3 separate regions of the Homo sapiens genome follow, and regions 1 and 2 are each reported to be linked to region 3. The links are microRNA targets in miRTarBase. Many come from high-throughput screens and were not tested one by one. Region 3 holds a microRNA gene; each other region holds the end of a gene's coding sequence.

Region 1 (7,172 bases), not on the chromosome of region 3:
TGATGAAACCTTACTAATAGCACCAGGGATATTGATGCCTCGTGCAGCCCCTGTAGCTTTGTTCAGAAGCAGGGTTTTTTTTGTTGTTATTTGGCCTAGTGGTAAAATGCTGCCTAAACTTAGCTGTTCTGGTTGAAGTCACCAGGTGCTAGAATCCTACTTGCATGGTCTCCCCTTCACTCTGTCCAGTTGCCCCAAATCTGGGAGTTTGAGGACATTGTGAAACACAGTGATGGTTTTCCAGATTCCCTTCTGTTCTTCCATTTCACTCCCTGAATTGTTAGTAATCTCACTCAGTGCCTACTCACTCATATGGCTCTACCATTAAAGTCACTGGGAAATTTTATGTGCAATTTTATACATGGGTTATTTCATTCTCCTTTTTTAAAACTCATATTTATACATGTCTGTCTATGTATCTAATTATGCTTCCAAAAAATAACAGATTTTGAATGTGAAGAATGTCATGGTGGTAGTATCACGCTGGTATGGAGGGATTCTGCTAGGACCAGATCGCTTTAAACATATCAACAACTGTGCCAGAAACATACTAGTGGAAAAGAACTACACAAATTCACCTGTAAGTGGCTCTTCGTACTACATCTAGAGAATTTCTCATCACTGCCTGGGAATTTTTTAAAAAGACAGAAAATTAAGAATGAATCAGAATGTGAGTGGTGAATTGGTAAAACCTTTGGACTCAGAACCTGGAGACCTAGACTCTAAACAGTGTGTCTGGCCAGTCACGTGACTTTGGACCGATCACTTAATCCCTTCGCACCTTGATTTCATAGGACAGACCACTTCATCCCTTCGCACCTTGATTTCATAGGTTCATAGAATTTTATAATTAGAAAAACCTTTTAAGACCAACTAGGTTCCATCCCTAAAATTGAGCCCCAGAGTGGTTGTAGCTGATATCACATCAGACTAGATGTTCTTTAAACATCTAGAAAATTCTGAAATTCTCTGTTAGTGTCAAAACATCTCCCCCTTCACTGGCATACCTTTAGATGCTTTCTTCCTTTATACTTTGAGTTTATTTTGTTTTATATTTTAGGTATGTTCATATCTGCCTTATTTAAATTTTACTGCCTTGGGAAAGTGGGGCAATAGATGAAATAATTTTGAAATTATTCAAACATAAATCCACTAGATAAATAAGGTTTCCTTGATTATTCTTGATTGTTTAAAAAATATTAGCCTATAAGTGAAAGTACCCTTTAAAACACAGAAATGACACATATAAAAGTGATTATACCCTCACTGTAACATATATACATACATACATATATGTATGAATATATGTGGAATATATATGTGTAAATATATTCTAAGTGATTAGATTGAAGATTTCATCTTTATGTAAATGGAGAGATGCTGCACTGATTTGTGTCTTTTTCAGGAGGAGTCATCTAAGGCTTTGGGAAAGAACAAAAAAGTAAGAAAAGACAAGAAGAGGAATGAACATTAATACCTGAAACTATAGGAAAGGTTAATTTGCCTATAATTATATATACATTCCATAGTCATCAAGGAATATATTGTGCAGAGAGAGTATCCTTGACTGCTTAAGTCAGCCAGTTCAGCATGGATACCAACATTAGCTTTTCTTCTTGGTTATATCATCTGCCAAAAATAGAGAACTTATGATCTATTCATGTGTGTTTCAGGCTTATTTGGGAGAACTAATTTGAACTTAATCACCACTTCATCTAATTTTAGCAAGGTAACAGTTGCCCAGGGCAGTACCTGAATTAACTGTCCATTTCAGTACATGTCAAGTGCCTTTGTTAGGTGGAGAAGAAATGTCTCTAGAGGAATATAAATACCTGATTTCTTGTCATCGAGATTCTTGTACTGTTAAATGAATATTGCCTTTTACTGCTCTTTATGGCTTATTGGAATAGGAGCTCATTTAAGATTGATCTTGGAGAGTTTCTTCTTGTGATTTTAGTTCATAAGTATGTCACCTTTCATTTTATAGTGTTCATCATTGAGTAATGGATTAAGTGAAAATCCAGGAGTATCCATCTGCAGTTATGTGCTGAGGTGATAATTCATCCAACATATTTGTTAGCATAAATATTATGCTTCAGTTTCTGTTGCAAATTGGTGATTGTGAAATTACAGAAAGTGATTTTCTAGTCTGCTTTTTTTGTTTAATTCTTGTAATGTAAGCAATAAATATGGAGTGTCAGTAGTCTCCTTCCACCCCAGAAATGTGTTGGTGTAACATTCTCGTTTCTTTTAACAACCTGGAAGTACCTTTCTTGTGATCTTCACTGAGGAATTAGAACTATGATAGAAGTTAGGCTGTGGCAAATGGGACATTCGTAGAGTGGGATAGAGGTGGCAGAATGAACCTGGTGTAGGGCAGGAGTATGTTGTGTAGTTACATCAATTTGATGCATGCTTTCCATCTGCACTCCAGACGGCTTTCTCAGTTCCAAGATTTTGCAGAGAGAAGGAGCAAACCTTTTCATTGGAAAAACAGAAACAACCCTCCCCCCCATTTTTTCCCCTCTATTCATCAAACCTTTATGTATCTTTCATCTTCCAGTTACCTCTAGGCATTTAGATAGTGAAATTTACCTTTGAGATATAACAATAAGTGATTAACTGTTCACTTTCAGATGTAATGGCAAACAATTGTTAAAAGTTATTAACTGATCACAGATTTGCCTGGACTTCCCTTCCCAGGGAGGGAACAGAAGTTAGGAGGCAACTTTGGGATGGTGCTAGAGCATGGAAAGCACAGAGAATTGGACAAACAGGTCTTTTTCTCTTTTCTCTGATGTTTTACCTTTAAAAGATCCAACATCCTTACCGTTGGTATTTTTAGTAAGGTTATAGTAAATAGCTTTACACCAGGATGGATTCTGAAATATAAATTCTAAATTATATTTGTTATAACTATATTTTATGTTGTATGTTATCAGGAGCCATCAGAGAATGACCTTTTTGTGTTTGGAACACTTGGTTCCATGAAAAGTATGCTTTGTGTTTTAACTGTTAAAATAATTTAAAAATTAATTATTTTACATAATTAAAGAAGTTAAAAACTATTAACATTAAATAATTTCACAATTTCAACATGTCAAACCTATGAAGGGAGATAGGAAACAATGAGAAACTTACTTTTGCTCCTTTATACAGAATTATTAACTATATTTTACTAACTAAAAAACTCTAGTATTCTTTACCTAAAGTCAATTGGCTGGTAAGAGGGAGAGATGCAAAATTCTCCAGCTCTGAACTTGGAGCTACTTCACACTCTACTCTTAATGGAAACTTGAACTAATGATAGATAGTATTTTTTTCCTCTATTTAAAATTTTTGTCTTGATTAGGAGATTTTTCAGTTCTCCATATAATAATTTTCTACAATCAGATCTATGCTGTGGCATATTTTGCTTTATTTAAAAATTTTTTTTTAGAGATGAGTTCTTGCTCTGTCACCTAGGCTGGAGTGCAGTGGCATGATCATGGCTCACTGCAGCCTTGACCTTCCAGCCTGCCAAGTAGCTGGGATTACAGACAGGCATGTGCTATTACACCTGGCTAATTTTTAAAGTTTTTTTTGTAAAGATAGGGTCTTTCTATGTTGCCCAGGCTCGTCTTGAGCTCCTGGCCTCAATCGATCTTCCTGCCAAGGTTTTGGAATTACAGGTGTGAGCCACCATGCCTGGCCTGCTTTGACATATTTTATAGTGTGTTAATTACAAATAGTCTTCATATGCCAGAATATAAGAGCAAGTGTTATCTACTTTTTAGATGGGAATTGCAGAAGCTGCATCAAAAGTATGCTTTGAGGTATATATAGTGAAACAGAGCCTTTCTGAAGAGAATTATATCAAACTAATTACAACCAAGAAATAATAGTATGAAGCGGATGCTGTTTGGAGGACAGGAAAATTTATCGGGAAAATTACATAATCCCTCTGATTCCACTATCCAGAGATAGCCATTATTATTAATATTTGGTATGTACATCCTTATATTATTTTTTTCTTATGCATGATTTTGTATATATGGTTATTTTTCTTTCCATAAAAATGGTATTAAACTGTATATACTGTTTTGTAGCCTACATATTTCATATAGAAGTATATTGTTAACATTTTCCATGTCAATAAATATTCTTCTATGGCTTAAATGTCTTATGACTGCATTGTATTCTGTCTTCTCAGTATTATACTAACTAGTCCTCCACTTATTTCCAATTTTTAAGTTTTTTTCAACTTTTCACTGTTATAAACAACTGTGAAAACCTACATCATTTGCAGATTTTTGTATGTATCTTTGATTATTTCTTTAGGAAAAGCTCCTAGATATCGAATTTCTTGGTCAAGGTTTGTACATTCTAATAGCTTTTGATTAGTTGAGTCAGATTGTCATCCAGGAAAGTGTTATCAGTGATTGCTCCATTAATATTGTGTTGGAATATTTAATACCAGCCAAAGATGGGAAAAAATAGGCAGTTTGCTTGATAACTCCCAAGATCCTTTTTAAAAAAGTAAACTTTTTGGCCAGGCACAGTGTCTCACGTCTGTAATCCCAGCATTTTGGGTGGCTGAGGCAGGCGGATCACTTGAGGTCAGGAGGTTGAGACCAGCCTGACCAACATGGTCAAACCTGTCTCTACTAAAAATACAAAAAAAATTAGCTGGGTGTGGTGGCGGGCACCTGTAATCCCAGCTACTCAGGGGGGCTGAGGCAGGAATATCACTTGAACCCGGGAGGCAGAGATTGCAGTGAGCCCACATCGTGCCTTTGCACTCCAGCCTGGCGACAAGAGTGAAACTCCATCTCAAAAAAAAAAAAAACAACCTTCTTGCCTTGAAATAATTGTAGCCTCACAAGAAGTTACAAAAATAGTAGGTCCTGTGTACCCATCACTGAGCCTCCACTGACAGTAGTATAACTATAGTAAAATTGCAAAACCAGGAAATAGTTTGATTACGATTCTTTTATCAGATAAATGATTTCCAAATATTTTCTCCCAGTCTGTGGCTTGTCTTTTCATTCTCTTAGCAGTGTATTTTGCAGAGTAAAGTTGTTAATTTTGATGAGATCTAATTATCTTTTTTTTTCCTCTTTTTTGGATCATTCTTTTTGATGCAACATCTAAGGACTTTGCCTAACCCCAGGTCTAGATTTTCTTCTGTTTTTAAAGTTACATCATTTTGTGTTTTTCTTGTAGATCTATTTTCCATTTTTAGTTTTTACATAAGGTGTGAGATTAAAGTCAAAGTTTTTTTTGTTTTGTTTTTTGCTTATGGATGTCCAGTTATGGAAGTGACTAGTTTTTGTAAATTGAACTTTTTTTTTTGAGACAGGGTCTTGCTCTGTTGCCCAGGCTGGAGTGCAGTGGCCTGATCATGGCTCACTGCAGTCTTGACTTCCCTGGCTCAAGCGATCCTCCCACCTCAACATCCCGAGTAGCTGAGACTACAGGTGCATGCTACCACACCAGGCTAATTTTTATATGTTTTGTAGGGATGGGGTTTCACCATGTTGCCCAGGCTGGTCTCTGTCTCCTGAGCTCAAATGATCTTGGCTCACTGCAACCTCCACCTCCTGGCTTCAAGTGATTCTCATGTCTCAGCCACATGAGTAGTTGAGACTACAGGCACGTGCCACCAGGCCTGGCTAATTTTTGTATTTTTGGTAGAGATTGGCTTTCACTATGTTGGCCAGGCTGGCCTTGAACCCCTGACCTAAAGTGATCCACCCTCCTCGGCCTCCCAAAGTGCTGGGATTACAGGCGAGAGCCACTGTGCCTGGCCTCTAAATGGACTTTGATTTGGGTATACCATAATGCTTCCCATACCCATCCACATAGAATTCCTGATTTTTCATTCTCAGTACTTGAGCCTGCAAATTAGATTTCATCATTTTCCTTTCTCAGTGATCCAAGTATCTCAATTGTTCCTCCATCTCTTTATGGCTTTCCATCCCCAATAACAGGAACAAGAGCTATTTTTGTACATAATGTTTTGACAGATGGGACATGCTGAAGATGAACGTCTTCCATCATATCCCAGTACCTTCTTTAAACTTTCATTATCACAATCAATGGTTACACAATGTTCATTTAGACTAATGGTAATCAGTGTTTTCCAGATTCAACTGGATATGTATTCCGTAGTTTGCTTCCCAATTCAGGTTTTCAACCATAGCTCTATCCTATGAAATGGAAACCAAAGGACATAGTCATATCTGTATTGTTCCAGATAGTTGTAGTCAGAGTTGCTATCTGCTCATCCATTTTGAGGATGAAGACCACTCTCAGAAGTGTATGTTTCATTCATTGAGTTGGCTTCTGTACTGCTTACTTCTTGATTCTTCAGAAAGAGGTTTTGGAAAACTGAATCCTTTACTGCAAGGGGCACTGAGTGAAAGTTAAAAGAGAATATTATTCTTTTGCTCTGAGATTCTCTCAAGGCACCAAAATTATATTAGATTTTCCCTTTTGTAACTACCCTTCCCTCAGCAACAATTTCACCTTTCTTCCTTTTATCATTAATTTAAATCCAAACCTTTCCCTCTAAAGTAGGTCCCACTGGTTGTCACTGGACTAGCCCATATTTTTGGTAGCAAGATGAGATATTCCAGGGTTTCCCTTTGGGGTCATTCCCAATAATAGGGGATCACACTGGATAAATATGAAGAAAGGGTACTATCCTTCCATGAAGCAACAAAACATTTGCATAGTCAGCCCCAGCTTGGCAAAGTGCAGGGAACAGATAATCCATACCATCAATCTCTTTGGAATTTTTGCATTTAGGTTCAAATTAATATATATATTACCTTGTTTTGGAATATTATATGATTTTGGGATTCTTTTTTTTTTTTTGAGATGGAGTCTCACTCTGTCACTCAGGCTGGAGTGCAGTAGTGTGATCTCAGCTTACTGCAACCTCCGCCTCCCGGGTTCAAACGATTCTCCTGCCTCAGCCTCCCAAGTAGCTGGGATTACAGGTGCATGTCACCACGCCTGGCTAATTTTGTATTTTTAGTAGAGACAGGGTTTCACCGTGTTAGCCAGGATGGTCTCAATCTCCTGACCTTGCAATCTGCCTGCCTTGGCCTCACAAAGTACTGGGATTACAGGCGTGAGCCACCATGCCCGACGTGGATTTTGGGATTCTTAATGGTAGCCCTGGT
Region 2 (7,206 bases), not on the chromosome of region 3:
GAATGTGAATAATTTTTATAAAGAAGAGTCTAGCAGTATGTATCAGTACCCTTAAGGAAAAGCTAGATGTTTTGACCAATAATCCTACTATTAGAAACCAGTCCTAAGAAAATAAATCAAAATATGGAAAATGGCCTAACATGACATTTATAGTTGAGGAAAGTTGGAAACAGTGAATTATCAACAAAAAGGAATGGTTTAATAAATTATGCACATCCATTCAATAGAATATTATACAGTATTAATGTCATTTTCATATTTAATGACATGAGGAAAATGTTCTTGATAAAATAAATGAAGTAGTAAGAATATTAAACTGTATGCAGTAGGGCCTTATTTGTGTAACATAAGGTGTGCATATAAATAATACATATATATGCATATATAAAAATATTAATATTATTTAATTCAGTAGAGGACAAAGGTTAACTTGATAATTTAAGACAAAATAGTTTTATCAAAATATAAACATGGTGTATCTTGATAGTTTAATTTATGAGTTTCAGTCATTTGTTTCTTATTCTTTGTTTCTTTTCCTTCCTCTCCTGGCCCAAGTCTACACTTGGATATGTCGCTCTGCTCATAAGTACTTTCCATGTTTTAATTTATGGATGGAAACGAGCTTTTGAGGAAGAGTACTACAGATTTTATACACCACCAAACTTTGTTCTTGCTCTTGTTTTGCCCTCAATTGTAATTCTGGGTAAGATTATTTTATTCCTTCCATGTATAAGCCGAAAGCTAAAACGAATTAAAAAAGGCTGGGAAAAGAGCCAATTTCTGGAAGAAGGTATGGGAGGAACAATTCCTCATGTCTCCCCGGAGAGGGTCACAGTAATGTGATGACAAATGGTGTTCACAGCTGCCATATAAAGTTCTACTCATGCCATTATTTTTATGACTTCTACGTTCAGTTACAAGTATGCTGTCAAATTATCGTGGGTTGAAACTTGTTAAATGAGATTTCAACTGACTTAGTGATAGAGTTTTCTTCAAGTTAATTTTCACAAATGTCATGTTTGCCAATATGAATTTTTCTAGTCAACATATTATTGTAATTTAGGTATGTTTTGTTTTGTTTTGCACAACTGTAACCCTGTTGTTACTTTATATTTCATAATCAGGCAAAAATACTTACAGTTAATAATATAGATATAATGTTAAAAACAATTTGCAAACCAGCAGAATTTTAAGCTTTTAAAATAATTCAATGGATATACATTTTTTTCTGAAGATTAAGATTTTAATTATTCAACTTAAAAAGTAGAAATGCATTATTATACATTTTTTTAAGAAAGGACACGTTATGTTAGCATCTAGGTAAGGCTGCATGATAGCATTCCTATATTTCTCTCATAAAATAGGATTTGAAGGATGAAATTAATTGTATGAAGCAATGTGATTATATGAAGAGACACAAATTAAAAAGACAAATTAAACCTGAAATTATATTTAAAATATATTTGAGACATGAAATACATACTGATAATACATACCTCATGAAAGATTTTATTCTTTATTGTGTTACAGAGCAGTTTCATTTTCATATTAATATACTGATCAGGAAGAGGATTCAGTAACATTTGGCTTCCAAAACTGCTATCTCTAATACGGTACCAATCCTAGGAACTGTATACTAGTTCCTACTTAGAACAAAAGTATCAAGTTTGCACACAAGTAATCTGCCAGCTGACCTTTGTCGCACCTTAACCAGTCACCACTTGCTATGGTATAGGATTATACTGATGTTCTTTGAGGGATTCTGATGTGCTAGGCATGGTTCTAAGTACTTTACTTGTATTATCCCATTTAATACTTAGAACAACCCCGTGAGATAAGTAGTTATTATCCTCATTTTACACATGAGGGACCGAAGGATAGAAAAGTTATTTTTCAAAGGTCTTGCAGTTAATAAATGGCAGAGTGAGCATTCAAGTCCAGGTAGTCATATTCCAGAGGCCACGGTTTTAACCACTAGGCTCTAGAGCTCCCGCCGCGCCCCTATGCATTATGTTCACAATGCCAATCTAGATGCTTCCTCTTTTGTATAAAGTCACTGACATTCTTTAGAGTGGGTTGGGTGCATCCAAAAATGTATAAAAATATTATTATAATAAACTTATTACTGCTTGTAGGGTAATTCACAGTTACTTACCCTATTCTTGCTTGGAACATGAGCCTGGAGACCCATGGCAGTCCATATGCCTCCCTATGCAGTGAAGGGCCCTAGCAGTGTTAACAAATTGCTGAGATCCCACGGAGTCTTTCAAAAATCTCTGTAGAGTTAGTCTTCTCCTTTTCTCTTCCTGAGAAGTTCTCCTGCCTGCATAACCATTCATTAGGGAGTACTTTACAAGCATGAAGGATATTAGGGTAAGTGGCTAATTATAAATCTACTCTAGAGACATATAATCATACAGATTATTCATAAAATTTTTCAGTGCTGTCCTTCCACATTTAATTGCATTTTGCTCAAACTGTAGAATGCCCTACATTCCCCCCACCCCAATTTGCTATTTCCTTATTAAAATAGAAAATTATAGGCAAGATACAATTATATGCGTTCCTCTTCCTGAAATTATAACATTTCTAAACTTACCCACGTAGGTACTACTGAATCCAACTGCCAACAATAAAAAGACTTTTATTTAGTAGAGGCTACCTTTCCCACCAGTGACTCTTTTTCTACAACTGCCTTGTCAGTTTGGTAATTCACTTATGATTTTCTAATGTTCTCTTGGTGAATTTTATTATCTTGTACCCTCTTTTTTTTTTTTTTTTTTTTTAAAGACAGAGTCTTGCTCTGTCACCCAGGCTGGAGTGCAGTGGCACGATCTCGGCTCACTGCAAGCTCTGCCTCCCGGGTTCACGCCATTCTCCTGCCTCAGCCTCCCGAGTAGCTGGGACTACAGGTGCCCGCCACCATGCCCGGCTGATTTCTTTTTGTATTTTTAGTAGAGACGGAGTTTCACCGTGTTAGCCAGGATGGTCTCGATCTCCTGACCTCGTGATCCGCCCGCCTTGGCCTCCAAAGTGCTGGGATTACAGGTGTGAGCTACCGCGCCCGGCCTATTATCTTGTACTTTCTAACTGAGCCCTCTATTTTCTTTATTTTAATAATATTTCTCCCCACTTGAGAATCACTTGTTAGTTCTTGGTAGGAATTCAGTTGGGCAATGATAACTTTTATGGGCAAAAACATTCTATTATAGTGAACTAATGAAAATAACAGCGTATTTTCAATATTTTCTTATTCCTTAAATTCCACTCTTTTAACACTATGCTTAACCACTTAATGTGATGAAATATTCCTAAAAGTTAAATGACTATTAAAGCATATATTGTTGCATGTATATATTAAGTAGCCGATACTCTAAATAAAAATACCACTGTTACAGATAAATGGGGCCTTTAAAAATATGAAAAACAAACTTGTGAAAATGTATAAAAGATGCATCTGTTGTTTCAAATGGCACTATCTTCTTTTCAGTACTACAAAAACAGAATAATTTTGAAGTTTTAGAATAAATGTAATATATTTACTATAATTCTAAATGTTTAAATGCTTTTCTAAAAATGCAAAACTATGATGTTTAGTTGCTTTATTTTACCTCTATGTGATTATTTTTCTTAATTGTTATTTTTTATAATCATTATTTTTCTGAACCATTCTTCTGGCCTCAGAAGTAGGACTGAATTCTACTATTGCTAGGTGTGAGAAAGTGGTGGTGAGAACCTTAGAGCAGTGGAGATTTGCTACCTGGTCTGTGTTTTGAGAAGTGCCCCTTAGAAAGTTAAAAGAATGTAGAAAAGATACTCAGTCTTAATCCTATGCAAAAAAAAAAATCAAGTAATTGTTTTCCTATGAGGAAAATAACCATGAGCTGTATCATGCTACTTAGCTTTTATGTAAATATTTCTTATGTCTCCTCTATTAAGAGTATTTAAAATCATATTTAAATATGAATCTATTCATGCTAACATTATTTTTCAAAACATACATGGAAATTTAGCCCAGATTGTCTACATATAAGGTTTTTATTTGAATTGTAAAATATTTAAAAGTATGAATAAAATATATTTATAGGTATTTATCAGAGATGATTATTTTGTGCTACATACAGGTTGGCTAATGAGCTCTAGTGTTAAACTACCTGATTAATTTCTTATAAAGCAGCATAACCTTGGCTTGATTAAGGAATTCTACTTTCAAAAATTAATCTGATAATAGTAACAAGGTATATTATACTTTCATTACAATCAAATTATAGAAATTACTTGTGTAAAAGGGCTTCAAGAATATATCCAATTTTTAAATATTTTAATATATCTCCTATCTGATAACTTAATTCTTCTAAATTACCACTTGCCATTAAGCTATTTCATAATAAATTCTGTACAGTTTCCCCCCAAAAAAGAGATTTATTTATGAAATATTTAAAGTTTCTAATGTGGTATTTTAAATAAAGTATCATAAATGTAATAAGTAAATATTTATTTAGGAATACTGTGAACACTGAACTAATTATTCCTGTGTCAGTCTATGAAATCCCTGTTTTGAAATACGTAAACAGCCTAAAATGTGTTGAAATTATTTTGTAAATCCATGACTTAAAACAAGATACATACATAGTATAACACACCTCACAGTGTTAAGATTTATATTGTGAAATGAGACACCCTACCTTCAATTGTTCATCAGTGGGTAAAACAAATTCTGATGTACATTCAGGACAAATGATTAGCCCTAAATGAAACTGTAATAATTTCAGTGGAAACTCAATCTGTTTTTACCTTTAAACAGTGAATTTTACATGAATGAATGGGTTCTTCACTTTTTTTTTAGTATGAGAAAATTATACAGTGCTTAATTTTCAGAGATTCTTTCCATATGTTACTAAAAAATGTTTTGTTCAGCCTAACATACTGAGTTTTTTTTAACTTTCTAAATTATTGAATTTCCATCATGCATTCATCCAAAATTAAGGCAGACTGTTTGGATTCTTCCAGTGGCCAGATGAGCTAAATTAAATCACAAAAGCAGATGCTTTTGTATGATCTCCAAATTGCCAACTTTAAGGAAATATTCTCTTGAAATTGTCTTTAAAGATCTTTTGCAGCTTTGCAGATACCCAGACTGAGCTGGAACTGGAATTTGTCTTCCTATTGACTCTACTTCTTTAAAAGCGGCTGCCCATTACATTCCTCAGCTGTCCTTGCAGTTAGGTGTACATGTGACTGAGTGTTGGCCAGTGAGATGAAGTCTCCTCAAAGGAAGGCAGCATGTGTCCTTTTTCATCCCTTCATCTTGCTGCTGGGATTGTGGATATAACAGGAGCCCTGGCAGCTGTCTCCAGAGGATCAAAGCCACACCCAAAGAGTAAGGCAGATTAGAGACCAGAAAGACCTTGACTACTTCCCTACTTCCACTGCTTTTTCCTGCATTTAAGCCATTGTAAATCTGGGTGTGTTACATGAAGTGAAAATTAATTCTTTCTGCCCTTCAGTTCTTTATCCTGATACCATTTAACACTGTCTGAATTAACTAGACTGCAATAATTCTTTCTTTTGAAAGCTTTTAAAGGATAATGTGCAATTCACATTAAAATTGATTTTCCATTGTCAATTAGTTATACTCATTTTCCTGCCTTGATCTTTCATTAGATATTTTGTATCTGCTTGGAATATATTATCTTCTTTTTAACTGTGTAATTGGTAATTACTAAAACTCTGTAATCTCCAAAATATTGCTATCAAATTACACACCATGTTTTCTATCATTCTCATAGATCTGCCTTATAAACATTTAAATAAAAAGTACTATTTAATGATTTAACTTCTGTTTTGAAATGTTGTATACACGTGGATTTTTTTCTCATTAAATAATAATTCTAGTATTTGATGGAGGCCTTCTAATACTTTTCTGAGTTATTTCTTTTCAGAAGCATCCAGAAAGCAATACATGTGATAGTTATGGAGGGGTTTTGTTTGTTTTTACTAAAATAGTCATTTAGAAAAACCTCCATTTACATTTATTTTATTACATTATTTCATTTTACTAGCATTCATTAAGCATCTTTAAATCAGAACACACACAATATTCAAGCTATTCTGTAAACTCCCCGTAGCAGAAATTTTGTCTTATTTACTACTAAATCCCCAGTATCTAGTATAATGTGATCTATGATGGATACTAAAGAGATATTATAATAAATAATTACCCATTTTTACAGAAAATTATGTTTTTTATCATCCCGCATCCATGCAGCCATGCCTACATCCTCTTGCCTCTTCCTCATGCCTTGCCTCCTGGCCAGTGGCCTAGCGCTACCCTGTTGTCCTAAAGAGTTTCTGCTGCTGCTGCCACTACCACCACCACCACACTGCTATATGTTGAGGAGTCCTGTACACTGTGCCACTGACAAGGAGTAACTGACCTTTGTGCCTGTGCACCAGATCTGTCTGTGGAGGTTCTGGCTTCCCCAGCTGCTGCCTGGAAATGCTTAGGTGCTAATATCCTGAGAGGAGGATTGTCAGGTAAAATACAGGACTCTCAGTTAAATTTGAATTGCAGACAAACAATAAATTACTTTTTATTATAAGCATGGGCTTTTTAAAATTTTTCTAAATCTGGCAACCCTACTTAAGGAGTGAACTTTGATCAAGGAGGTACAGCACAAAATGAAGCTAGTAGATAAATTCTCCCTTCCTTTCCCCCAGATAGGCTGTTCTAAAGTGCAATAATTCATAAGACCTTCATGAAAATATCCTCAAAGACCGAGCAATTAACTGCACTTGTTGCAAAGCTATGACAAGCTCACTAACACCTGTGTTTGTGTTCCCTTCTCCTACTGCCTCACTTCCATGTTTTTCCTCACTTCTGTTTCTCAGAGATAGTACTCCCCATAGAGTGGCAGCAGGTGAGTGTTGGTGTTGTTTGTTTATGGCAGGCTTGGGGAACCTAGACTAGTACAGTACTTTTGGTAGTGGATTCTTCTAATGGGAAGTGAAACAAGAGACAAATGATGACTTTGAGAAAGTCAGGCACGGGACCCTGCAGACTCAAAATCCAGATTTGTTGAGACCCCTGAGAGTAGAAAAACCCCTCAGGGGCAGATTCACATTGATCAAATGTACAGTCATACACTGTTAAATCAAAATAGTAACTCAGCACTACTGTGTGAAATATCAGTGTCCTGTAGGCGA
Region 3 (7,200 bases):
ATAACAGTTTCACAAGAAAACAGAAGAATACTCACGATTTTGGAATCCACAAAGATTTCTTAAACTGGAGACACACAAAATAAATAAGCCATAAAGGAAAACATCTGATAAACTAAACTAATTCAAAATTATGAATGTCTTCTTCAAAATACACTATTAAAAGAGTGAATAAAATAAGCCACAGAGTGGGCTGGGCACAGTGGCTCACGCCTGTAATCCCAGCACTTTGGGAGGCCGAAGCAGGCAGATCACAAGGTCAGGAGATTGAGACCATCCTGGCTCACATGGTGAAACCCCGTCTCTACTAAAAATACAAAAAATTAGCTGGGCATGGTGGCGGGCACCTGTAGTCCCAGCTACTTGGGAGGCTGAGGCAGGAGAATGGCGTGAACCCGGGAGGAGGAGCTTGCAGTGAGCCGAGATCACGCCACTGCACTCCAGCCTGGGTGACAGAGCAAGACTCCATCTCAAAAAAAAAAAACAAAAAACAAAAAGCCACATAGTGGCAAAAGATATTATCAATACATATACCCGACAAAGGACTCATATCCAGAATAAAGGACTATAAAAACAAGAAAAGGCAGACAAGCCCATAGAAAATCACACAAAACACATGAATAGGCATTTCACAGAAGAGGGTACCCAAATGGCCAATAAACAATTAAAAAGGTGTTTATTTGATATCAGAAAAATGAAAACAACAATGAGATTCAATACACTGCATTAGTCTTTGAAGAGAATGGCTAAAATTTAAAAGATGGAAAAGATCAAGTTTTGATGAAGATGTGAAAAACTGTTGGGCAGTACTACTCAAGCTGAACCCCATGCATCAGAGAAATTACACTTTTATATATCCAACTGAAATATGTGTGTGTGTGTGTGTTCACCAATGTTCACAGTGGCACTAGTTGCAGTAATCTCAAATTGGAAACAACCCAAATGTCCATCTTTGGTAGAACGTATAAATTGTGTTATATTCATACAATGGAATACTACACAGCAATGAAAATGAAGATACTATTATTACTCTCAACATGAATGAATCTCACAAATAGTTGAGTAGGAAAAGCCAGTAATAAAATAATACACACTGTATCATTCCATTTTGTCTAATGTTTAAAAATAGGCCAAATTGGTCTAGGGTATTAGAAGCCAAGATTACAGTCAATTTGAGGGAGGATAATGCCTAGAAAAGATAATGAAGGGAGCTTCTGGTATGGTAGTAGTTTCTGCCTCCCAATCTGGGTGCTAGCAATATGTAGGTGTGTTTACTTTATGAAAATTCATCAAGCTCTCTGATTATAATTTGTGCATTTTTCTGTCTGTATGCTATACTTCAATAAAGATAGATTTATACTGAGTTAGGAACAAAGCTCAATAACTATAATTCTAGGCTGAGCTGCTAATAGGATTTGTTAAACAATTTAAACTGTGCCAGTCAGATATAATGATGCGAAATTAGAAAGGTAAAAGGAAGAGAGAGGCTATTTCCCCTGCCTATTAGTTTTCCTTCCTTCCTTCCTTCCTCCCTTTTCTTTCTCTTCTTTCTCCTTCCTTCTTTCTCTTTCTCCTTCCTTCCTTCCTTCCTTTTCTTTCTCTTCTCCTTCCTTCCTTCCTTCCTCTTCTTTCCCTTCCTTCCTTTCTCTCTCTCTCTTTTTACCTTCCTCCTTCCCTCCCTCCTTCTCTCTCTCTATTTATTTATTTTTTGAGAAAGATTCTTGTTCTGTCCAGGCTGGAGTACAGTGGCACAATCACAACTCACTGCAGCCTAGACCTCCTGGGCTCAAGGATCCTCCCACCTCAGTGTCCCAAATGTTTGGGACTTCAGGCATGCACCAACATGCCTGGCTGCCTATTAGTTTTCACTGGTAGTTGTTGATGTACGTGCAACATTAAATGTGGTTTTTAATGACCAGACTTTCTGTGCCTCTGCATTGCCACTAACTTCATCTGTGAGAAATGACTGTGATGCCAGCAGTGGACTTTATAGCTTCCTGACCTCTAGATTGTAGCTGTGTGGACTGAACTGCGAGCCCAACAGCATCCCTCTTAATGCTCCTACCATTAGAAGGGCTGGAAGAAGGCATCTCCCTCAGCCTTCTTCCAGCTCTTCTAATGGTAAGAGCATATAATTTTTAAGCATATAATTCTTAGCATTCAGTACCTAGAGAAGTGTCTGCACTGAACCCCAACTGATATATCAGTTAATAACACAACTGATAGGTTATCTAGTAGGTTTATGGTTGGTTGTAAGAATCTTTGGGAAAGAAAATTACCATTGGCAATCCTACCACCTAGGATCATCATTATCATGGGAAAGTTCTGCTTTAGAGGCAACCTAAATCTATTTTGAGGTCCTGAAAATGCATTTACTTCACAGGATATGCTGGTTTCTGCTGCCATTCAAAAATTATTCTTAAGGCATTCTTTGTTCTCTTTTCACTAGCTAAATAATGCCGTGCTTTTAACTTTTCTTTATGTGTTCAGCAGCTTTTCCCAGTTGTGGATATTTGAAAAAAGTATTCATATAAATACTGCCTGTTCTGGTAGGATTAGCTGTCCCTTTCTTTTGGTTATATTCCCAAGTTCATTCTTGCTTATCTAACCAAAGCCCTACATTGCTGACTCAAGTTTAGTTTATGGTCCAAGCCCAGTATCATGTTACTATTAGCCAAGATTTCCCATGGGTTGAGGCAGACTTGTAGAAGATTGAAAAATAAAACTTACTGGCCATAAGTAAGACTTTTTATCTGGCCTTCCAGTACAGAACATTCTCTAATATAGCAGCTTATAAACAATGAGAATCAGAAGCCTAAAAAAATTAGTTAATAGCCAAACAGTGACTGAATCATGGAATTGTACAGTTAGAATGGACCTTAGAAGCAGTCTATATAAGCCAGGTATAGTGGCTCATGCCTGTAATCTCAGCACTTTGGGAGGCCAAGGCAGGAGGATCTCTTGAGCCCTGGAGTTTGAGACCAGCCTGGCCAAAATGGTGAGACCCCATCTCTACTAATTTTTTTAAAAAGTCTATATACATACCAGAACACAGAGCTCAGATATGTATGCAGGATTCCAGTCCGTGCTGAATACTCTTCCAGTATGAGTACTCTTCCTACTCCTCAAGGTGTGTGGCCCTCAAAGCAGCAGCATCAGCACTTACCTGGGAGCTTGTTAGAAAGCCAGAATCTCAGGCTCCAACACCCACTGAAGCAGAATTTGCATGTAACACCCCCACCCCTTCTTGATTTGTATGCATGTTGAAATTTGTGGAGTTAGAGACAAAAGCACCACAGGTGCATGTCTTACTATTTAAAGTCTTGCCTAATTATATAACATAGAAACCTGATCCCTTCTGGACAAGGCCTGTATTATTACAGGTCCTGGTCTAATAGAGTATTTGAATAGCTGGGTTAAAGAAAAAGAAAACTCTCTTTAATAATCTTTGGAAAAAGAGGACATTTATTTGAGCTATGCTAGTTTTTAATGTACCTATTCAGATTTTAATCCATTAGAAAAATTAATAGCCTATTTGGTAGTAGCATGTCCTGAAAAAATAAGCTGAATAAATTGAAAGTATTTAAATGGATATTTAAACTCTGCAGCCATCGGTGATTTAGTTTTCAATTACATAAAGGTAATTACACTAGAATCCACCTCATTCACCCTGCCGTGAGAAAATGCTGGAGTGTTGTAATAAGCCAATGCTTTCAGGCAGTGACTGGTCTCCACTCCTTTTTGGCTGGGACCTGAATTCATTTGCTTTAAGCAGTTTAGGGTGTATGCTAGGAATATAAATTATAGAAACACCCTTTGTGACCCTTTTTACAAATGAAGTTGCATCACTATGAAGGGTGTATGTGAGGCTATAGGCCCAGCCTCTCAGATTGGGAATAGCTGACACTGCATGCAGATTTGGCCTGCTAGGTAAAGGCGGGACGGTGGTTTAGGACAGTGCCCCAGCTGGGCTCTTCCTAGACCAGTGGTTCTTAAAGTGTGCCTGCAGAGGAGGCTTCGGGGGTGCTGGTAATGTTCTGTTTCTTGATCTGGGTGCTGGTTACATGGGTGTGTTCAGTTTAGGAAAAGCCACTGAGCTGTTCACTTACAATAAATACACCTTTCTATATGTATATTTCAATAAAAAGTGAAAAGTGCAGAAGGTTAGAGTGCATTAGAGCAGATTTCTGTCCTCCTGTCAATCACAGGTAGGTGGTCTGTGTCTCCTACTTTGAGAAACACTGCCCAGAGCAATCTAAAAGGCTACGATCAGGGAAAATTGATGAACACACTTCATTAACCCAGCATGTTCATTGAGATGGACAGGTAAAACCAAACAAATAATGCCTAATGCAGGGTATACTTGTTCTAGGTGTTACATAAATACATTCTTCTGGTTTTCCTAACATCTTTGAGAGGACAATATTAACTACATTTACAGATGAGGCAAATGGCACACATAGAAGAGGCTGAGCTGAGAGTCCATGACAGGTCTGTAGGACCAAAGTCTATTTTATTTTCACCAGCGCCACTACTGGGCAGCTTGAAGGAGCAAGTAAGTCACAAGGACAGATTGAGGGATTGAGAATGGACAGAGAAGAAACCTAGGCCTTTTTGCCAACATAGTAGATAGTCTTGAAGAACAGACTGCAAATAGGCAACTCTGGTCTTTTCAGAATCTCTGGCAAGCAGATGGCAGTTTCTCAGAGGCAATACCCCATGGCCAAACCCATAAGACCTCCAAGCATCTGCAGAGTCCTGAAATCCAAGTACAATCATGGGCAACACAACAACATTTCAGTTCAACTACGGACCTCTTATATGATGGTGGTTTCATGAGATTTGAATACTGTATTTTTACTGCACCTTTTCTATGTTAAGATATATTTAGATACACACATACTTACCATTGTATTACAATTACTTACAGTGTTCAGTACAGCAACATACTGTACAGGTTTGTAGCCTGGGAGCAATAGGCTATACCACATAGCCTAGGTGTGTAGTAGGCTATACCATCTAGGTTTGTGTAATCACACTCTATGATGGTTCTACAATGAAGAAATTACCTAATGACACATTTTTCAGAACAAATCCCTGTCATTAAGCAATGCATGACTGCATTCTGGACTATGACCCAAATATGACTGGACATCAGAATCACCTTGGGAAGGTTTCAAACATACAGATTTACAGGCTCCACACCAGAGATCTAAATTTAGTAGGTTTGGAATGAGGCCTGAAAAGTTCTTTACAAACCACCCCAGGTAATTCTGATGACAAGCTTGGCTTGGGAAACACTACCCCAGCCACACTGACTCCATGAAAGAGTCAGACCTGGATTGACCTTGGTAGTAGTTCATCACAAGCCAAATGGAGGGAAGTAAAGGGCCCGTTATAAGATGCCCTCAAACTGAATAAATGTAACCAGATATCAAGACAAAAAACAAAGCAGAATAAAAGAAAACTTGCTTTCATAAGATGGAAACTTGTGACTAGTTTAGGCCTGCAAATAAAAGGCCTGCACTTGTGTCCCATGCATTACGTGTAACTTGTTTTCTTCCCTCCAGCCTGTTCACAAGGAAATCATGGCATCTAAAGTTTGTTTTACTAAAAAGCATTATAAAATAAATCATAAACAATATAGCACTTTGATATCTTAGATCTCAATATGAAATCCTTGGTCTAGGGTGTTTTTAGTTTAGAAGTTTGAGAATTTTGAAGACAGCAAAAATGGACTTTGCAAAATTTAAGGAGACAATATTGCAAAGATAACAAGATCCAAGGACACTCTCTTCCTTCTCCCATCAACCTGAACTGGTTTATTCTAGATTTAAACTATGAACTTTAATAACCTAGACTTCAATTTGACCCTAGTGTTCAGTGGTGAAAGTACATAGGTGATTATGTACAGTCAATAACTACCCTATCTCATCTGTCAAGTAGAATAAATAGCTAAAACTGGTAAGTTGATAAAGTGTTTTTATTTTGGAGAGTTAATAACTTACTCTAAAGTAGATTTTAATTACTAGACCTTGCTAACAACTGACATATGAATTAATTACTTTAAATCACTATCAAGTTCAATCTCCATACAAGTTTCAAGGAGAACTGCACAGCACTCAAACATAAAGGAAATATTAATGACATAAATGATGGAACACAATCAAGTCTATTATTCATTAGTATGAATGAAAACAAAATACAGTGAGCGATAAAGACAGACTAGAACTAATATCATTTGGGTTTACAAAAACCATCTCAAGTCCAAACATGTTCTTGTCCAAAGTCCTTGCCTCATTTCAGGAAACAACCCCATGCCTCACTTGTGAGATTAGAGTACCATGTTTTCTTTCTTTCCACATGTGGAAGTGGGGTAAAGAGATGTTTTGGCCAAAAAATACATTCTAGACCCAAACACTAGAGATATGATCAATCTCCAGGAATTTTATAAAAAGGTAATGTTGTATTTCTGGATAAAAGGGAAAAAATGAGCACAAAAAGGATACATTAGACCACATATCCAGAGATTAAGGAGACCCTCTGTGTATCCTCAGTTTCCCAGCTTATTTAGTTTTGTGTTTCCCGTCTTGGTGAAATACCTTTGAAGGGAAAGCATGCTTTTATCTGCAAATAGAGTTTATTAACTAGCTCTGGGGGCATTAACTAGCTCTGGGGGAACAAACAATTTTGAAAGTAAATTCTACTTTGAACTTTTTGACTTGAATCATTGTAATCTGAGATGTGACCTATAACTTATCCTTTTAGAAAATAAATTATAAATATCACAGAAGAGGTATTTTAGCAACTCATACACCTTCACATCTACAGTCAACTTATTTTTGACAAGGGTGCCAAGATAATCCAGTGAGGAAGAACTAGCCTTCTCAACAAGTGGTTCTGGATAATTGGATATCACATGCAAAAGAATGAAGTTGGATTTTTACCTCACACCCAATATAAAAAATTAACACAAAAAGATCAAAGACCTAAATGTAAGCACTAAAATGATAAAAATCTAGAAAACATAGACATAACTCTTTGTGGCCTTGGATTGTGCAATGGTTTTTTGATATGAGATCAAACACACAAGCAACAAAAGAAAACATACACACTTGACTTCATCAAAACGTAAAACTTCTATTCCTAAAAGGACACCAGCAAGAAACCTACAGAATGGGAGGAAATAGTTGCAAATCACCT

The links. The annotated mature microRNA hsa-miR-6512-3p reads UUCCAGCCCUUCUAAUGGUAGG and lies in region 3 at 2,058-2,079, opposite strand. An mRNA with a match to its seed (bases 2 to 7 or 8) in the 3' UTR can be bound and repressed. Matches are read on the target gene's strand: a 7mer-m8 pairs with bases 2 to 8, a 7mer-A1 pairs with bases 2 to 7 and ends in A, and an 8mer does both.
Region 1: miRTarBase lists IMPACT as a target of hsa-miR-6512-3p. Seed matches in the 3' UTR shown: 7mer-m8 at 3,465-3,471.
Region 2: miRTarBase lists STEAP2 as a target of hsa-miR-6512-3p. Seed matches in the 3' UTR shown: 7mer-m8 at 2,814-2,820 and 7mer-A1 at 5,142-5,148.

What each region holds. Positions count from the first base shown.
Region 1 is chr18:24,449,374-24,456,545 of GRCh38, forward strand. It overlaps IMPACT (impact RWD domain protein), which reads left to right. Exons shown (of 11, transcript NM_018439.4): 10 at 446-580; 11 at 1,406-4,158. The coding sequence ends at 1,474. Among named protein-coding and RNA genes, the nearest start is that of HRH4, 7.7 kb to the right of the region's middle.
Region 2 is chr7:90,231,782-90,238,987 of GRCh38, forward strand. STEAP2 (STEAP2 metalloreductase) reads left to right here. Exons shown (of 6, transcript NM_001244944.2): 6 at 556-5,902. The coding sequence ends at 843. LOC107986819 (a long non-coding RNA gene) reads right to left here. Exons shown (of 2, transcript XR_007060423.1): 2 at 5,806-7,206. Among named protein-coding and RNA genes, the nearest start is that of CFAP69, 9.8 kb to the right of the region's middle. RefSeq lists a silencer at 2,779-2,984.
Region 3 is chr2:177,311,754-177,318,953 of GRCh38, forward strand. MIR6512 (microRNA 6512) reads right to left here and starts at 2,129; the gene lies at 2,053-2,129. All of the region lies in intron 6 of LOC100130691 (Putative uncharacterized protein FLJ44553), which reads right to left.